Linked DNA regions of Homo sapiens: region 2 is linked to region 1. Evidence: fine-mapped QTL for protein levels in blood plasma. A gene starts in region 1. The other region holds a variant in brackets. All regions are shown on one strand. Distances are from middle to middle. Region 1 holds the start of KLRB1 (killer cell lectin like receptor B1). Region 2 has its middle 8.0 kb from the start of CLEC2D.

Region 1 (2,920 bases):
GGTAAACAATTGTAATATTATCAATGATAGTAAATTCAGTTAGATATCAGAAAATAATAATGTGTCATAATAATTTCATGCTGATTTTCTGCCTCAGTTTCTAGTTTCTTCCCATCCATCCACAGGCCATGCTATCCATCATGTGTTACCTCACATTGGTGTTCCCCGCTTCTTTCACTCAGAATGCTAACTCTTCAGAGACACAGGAAAGTGCCAGTTTCAACAAATGGTAAGTAGGTTCGTTACTGATATGCTCGAGTATTTTTGTGGCTTGTCTCTTTCTAAGCTGTGATACTTTTCAAACTAGAAACTATCAGGTAGTAATGATATTCAAATCTTTGATCTTGAATATGATTTTTTTTCCAGAAAGTGTTCCCCTCTCTTGAGAGAGTGAAGTATGTTACTCATTAAGCCTACACTTTATATATATATATATAAAATATATAAAATATATGTATAAAAAGTATATATATATATATAAAATATATAAAATATATGTATAAAAAGTATATATATATATATATATATATATATTTTTTTTTTTTTTTTGAGATAGTCTTGCTGTGTCACCCAGGCTGGAGTACAGTGGCACAATTACAGCTCACTGCAGCCTTGATCTCTTGGGCTCAAGCAATCCTCTCACCTCAGCCTCCCGAGTAGCTAGGACCACAGGCACGTGCCCCACACTTGGCTATTTTTTTGTATTGTTTGTAGAGATGAGGTTTTGCCACATTGCCCAGGCTGGCCTTAAACTCCTGGACTCAAGCAAATCACCTTAGCCTACCAAAGTGTTGGGATTACAGGCATGAGCCACTGCAACTGGCCTACACGTTGTATTCTGAAAGGAATATTATGGATGAAAATGCACTGGGACTTAATCATAGTATTGATATTTTGTAGAGGAATTTGGAATAACGTAGGTTGTTATTACAGCAAGTTTGCAATGTGTCTTAAATATTCCTTAGTTCATACATGTAAAATATTTTTCCTTCCTTCCTTCCATCCTTCCTTCCTTCCTCCTTCTCTTTTTCTTTCTTTCCTTTCCTTTCTCTCTCTTTCTTTTTCTTTCTCTCCTTTCTTTCTTTCTTCTTTTCTTTCTCTTTCTTTCCTTTCTTTCTTTCTTTCTTCCTTTCTTTCTTTCTTTCTTTCTTTCTTTCTTTCTTTCTTTCTTTCTTTCTTTTCTTTCTTTCTTTCTTTCTTCCTTCTTTCCATCCCTGTAGAGCAGGGGTAACCAATAGGCAGTGTGCCCAGGGTAGCCTAAAGTGTTCAGAGTCTTTTAACCAAGGCTCAGTAAGACAAGTGATGTTTGCTTTTCATGCTAACTTGATTGAAAAAAATAAATGTATGAGGTTTAAATTTTTTTTCCCAAAGTTGTGATTATCTACAGGCAAGCCATGCAACACCCGTTAAACATTAATATAAAACTACTGCTCATCTTTAAAGCAATGATTTAAAGCCATAAATGTAACAGGAAGATCTAATTCTGGAAGACATACAAATGCCGAAAGGAAAATTAAAGCCACTTACCCCGAGGAAGAGATGAAGGTGAAGAACTTTCTGGGCCTGAGTCTGTGGGTAAGTTTAACTCAGCATATATTGCTTGTTGGTCCATGGCAGACAGAGGAAGGTGGCATTAAACTTGTGTGTAAGAACAAACTCTCAATTCTGTGAGGCAAAATCAGCAAAAGGAAGCTTTCTGCCTGCAGTACTTTGTTGTCTCTCTTTTGTCCCCACCCACATACACTTTTTGTTGGTGGTTATCTCCATAAATTACTGAGACAATCCACTGACTGCATGTTCATTATACCTAGCTATGTAATATCTACTTTCCTTAATTAACTGGCCTGTTGTTTGAGAAAATTCTGGGAGGCTCATTTGTTCTTGTTTTTCTAACCATCCCTTTTGTGTTCCTCTCTCAGGGCCAGGACCAGAGTGAAGCAAATGAGGCATAGCCTGGGGTTCCAATTTAAGGGGCCCCCAACAAAACTCACTAATTAACAGAAATAATATTTAGCACAATTTTGTAAAAGTAAAAATTAATGCAAAAAAGTCCATAATGCTATTCAAAGGCTCTAAAATCTTCCTGAAATATCTGTGCTCCAAAGAAAGTTGTGAAATGTGAAAAATGGAAACATAAATGTGAGAAAGCCCCCTGAATAACACAACAGAAAAAGCAATGTGCTAAAGATCAGTAGCCTACTGTTAGCTTAGCTCTAAAGGCACTCTTGGATATGATAGCATTTTCACATAAGTAAAAGTATTTGGAAACTGCCAGAATTGTAGGAAGTGGAGTATATGGAATTTTTTATCTCTTTGAAAGACTTTCTTTTTTTTTCAAGGTGATTATAGTATGTGTCTACTTTTTTTTTTTTACCTTTTTTTATTATTATTATACTTTAAGTTCACAATGTACAGGTTTGTTACATATGTATACATGTGCCATGTTGGTGTGCTGCACCCGTTAACTTGTCATTTACATTAGGTATATCTCCTAATGCTATCCCTCCCCCCTCCCCCCACCCCACGACAGGCCCCGGTGTGTGGTGTTCCCCTCCCTGTGTCCAAATATTCTCATTGTTCAATTCCAACCTATGAGTGAGAACATGCGGTGTTTGGTTTTCTGTCCTTGCAATAGTTTGCTCAGAATGATGGTTTCCAGCTTCATCCATGTCCCTACAAAGGACATGAACTCATCCTTTTTTATGGCTGCATACTATTCCATGGTGCATATGTGCCATATATTCTTAATCCAGTCTATCATTGATAGACATTTGGGATGGTTCACGAGTCTTTGCTATTGTGAATAGTGCCACAATAAACATATGTGTGCATGTGTCTTTATAGCAGCGTGATTTATAATCCTTTGGGTATATACCCAGTAATGAGATGGCTGGGTCAAATTCTAGTTCTAGTCCCTCGA
Region 2 (2,920 bases), 54 kb after region 1:
GACCTAAATTTAAATAGCACAAAGCAGCCATTTGCTAACTAGATTTCATACAAATGCTCTGAGTTCCTGGAAAACCCACACTCCTTAACTTTGGGACTTTCAAGACTCACCTAAATCAATCAATTAAAGCTCACTTGTGTCAGCTAATCAGGGATCAGCTGTATTGACTAATGAAAACTAAGCGAGTTTCAAATTTTAACCATTTATTTGTGTAGAAGACTTGATTGGGAGCCTGGGTATGAATACTTGCTATAAAATCTGAGCATTCCCTTTGTTCTCTGGAGCAAACAATGTTAAGTTGTTAACTCTCTGTACCTTTCTCTAGAACTGGATGGAAACAACTCCATCTGAAATGCAGCCCTAATACCAGGGAACTCCTACAGTAAAGCGCTAAACAACTTTATTACTCTAACCAACGTTTATGTCCCTAATCAGCAAGAAGTAGTTAGAATGGTCATCATCCCTTTCCCTCAAGATTGAGGAATGGACATAAAAAGGAGGGGATTTGTAACTGCTCCAGACTGATCTGTTGTCAGAAAGGGGCTCTTGAACCAGACCATGAAAGAGGGTTCTTGGATCTCCTGCAGGAAGGAATTCAAGGAGAGTCACAGAGTGTAGAGAGAATAGACAGTTTATTGAAAGCTACTCAGTTACAGAGTAGGGCATCCTCCAAAAGCAGGAGGAGGAATGTGCTGTCTTTGTTTTAAACTCTTCTTTTATAGGGGTTTAATCTATGTAAAACCTAAGCTATGTCTACATGTGGGTAGGCTGTCAGTGTGACAAAATTTAGTATTTTGTTGATATAAAGAAACTTATCCTTGTCATCTTAGTGCATAAGTACATCAAAGTATGACTTTAGCTACCTTAAAAGCATGTATTGTTATGTGATATTGGGACATCTGGACATTCTGCTGTCGTAGGAGTTTGTCCTTGCAGCATTACTAAATCGCTTCCTTAGCTGTAAACATCTTATAATCGTAGGTCATAACTGTCAAGGAAGTGCCTTGCTAGTTTTTAGATGGAGTTGATTTTAAAATAGTGTCACTCTGGCTTTCCTATGCTCCTGCTTTCCTAACAAATCTGGTTCAACTTTTTTTTTTTTTATTCAACATAATCTTTTTTTTCCATGCTACCTCATTTACAGAGTGCTTCCTATAGATATGGTTGGTCTGTATGTTTCATTTTTCAGCTTTGATTCTTATTTTTTTGAATCACACATGCTTTATGGGGGCTTCCACTACCATGAGCCATATTTTCTGTATTACCAGCAAGATGTTTGGGTTTGTTTTTTGTTTTCTTTATATTTCAAATTTTATTTTAGATTTAGGAAGTACGTGTGCAGGTTTGTTAACATGGGTGTATTGCATGACGCTGATCTTACAATACCAATGATCCCATCACTCAGGTAGTGAGCATAATATCCAATAGGTAGTTTTTCAGAACTTGCCTTATCTTCCCTCTCTCCCTGCTCTCTTAATTCGAAG[C/T]CTATTTTTCCTATCTTTATGTCCACATGTTTCCAGCATTTAGCTCCCACTTATACGTGAGAGTATGTGGTATTTGTTTTTCTGTGTCTGCATTAATTTACTTAGGATGATGGCTTCCAGCTGCATCTTTTGTTGCAAAGGACATGACTTTGTTCTTTTTTATGACTGTGTAGTATTCCATGGTGTATATGTACCACATTTTCTTTATCCAGAACACTGTTGATAGGCATCTACATTGATTCCATGTCTTGGCTATTGTGAATAGTGCAGCAATAAACATGCATGGTTCAACTTTTATGGTAACAAAGCTGTGAGTTGTTCTTCAGTTGTCATGGACCCTCACTCAGGTCATGTAACCTGAGCATGGACAGGTGAAACAAGTGTGCAACCACAAGGGAAACCTAATCATTCAGACTGAGGTACAGGGACCGAATTAAGAGGTGGACACAGGATGGCAGGATCCAGGATCCAACTGGATAGAACTCAGGCATCACTTCATGGCAGGATCCAGTCAGATCTTGCCTCCCAGCATCACCTCATTGCAAGATCCAATCAGATTATTCCTCACTACCCTATGCTTATAAAACCTGACCCACCTCCCAGCTTGGCGAGGTACTACTTTGGGAGCTTTGTCCAGTGTTCTCTTTACTTTCTGTAAGAACAAAATCTCCTTGCTAAATCCACCTTGTCGGTGGTCATTGGGTTGATACCTGCCAAGTGACTGAACCCACCTGTTGTGTGGGTAACATTTAGAACATATTTTCCATTTCTTTATTTTCCTTGACTGTCTGCATTGGTGTCTGTGCACCAGATAAAACAGCTTCCTTTCCAGTCTTCACAGACAGGTCTCAGATAGGACAACACCTTTACCAATCAGTCCAGACAGAGGTTCTGGGTGCCACTTAAACCTTCCTGGTAGTTGAAACCACAATGTTTGTTCTTAATGGTCCTCAGGCATCTAGAGTATGCCAGGCCCTTCCAGTGCTCTCAGATACATGAGATAAAATCCAGTTCCTCAGGTAGCAGCCAGAAAAGCTGGGGTGCTAGTTATTTGGTCTGTCTCCTTTGCTTTTCAGAGAGAAGCTGGAAGCCAGGCTTTATCACTGCACTGAGCCAAAGTGGGGAGCAGGGGGAAGTGCCCACATGCTTATTAAAAACCGCTCTGAAAATATTTGAAGTAACAGGGCTATAACAATTATTATTTTAAAAGCAACTGCTGTTTTGGTTTGTGTAGCCCCAGAGGTTTAGCAGATGCTGGGCCCTGTCAGCTCACCAAAACAGGGAAATTAGAAACCAGTCTATCTGGTAGTATCTAGAGAAGTTGTGATACCAGATAGGTGGTCCAAACCCTTCACTCCTCAGGGATAGACTAAGAGATGGGAGTTCCTTCCCGATCATATGGCATTGTATTAGGGTTGGGGGTTATGATCACAGTG

What was found. PIP is the posterior inclusion probability: the model's chance that the variant is causal. Protein levels are from antibody-based Olink assays in UK Biobank. Linkage for the fine-mapping came from a reference panel and not from the study's own genotypes, which makes the PIPs less certain.
Region 2: its variant is fine-mapped to the plasma level of the KLRB1 protein (UK Biobank, PIP above 0.99).

Annotation. Positions count from the first base shown.
Region 1 is chr12:9,606,228-9,609,147 of GRCh38, forward strand. It overlaps KLRB1 (killer cell lectin like receptor B1), which reads right to left and starts at 1,689. Exons shown (of 6, transcript NM_002258.3): 1 at 1,528-1,689. The coding sequence starts at 1,612.
Region 2 is chr12:9,660,295-9,663,214 of GRCh38, forward strand. No RefSeq gene overlaps it. Among named protein-coding and RNA genes, the nearest start is that of CLEC2D, 8.0 kb to the right of the region's middle. The variant C/T (reference allele first, on the strand shown) is at 1,485.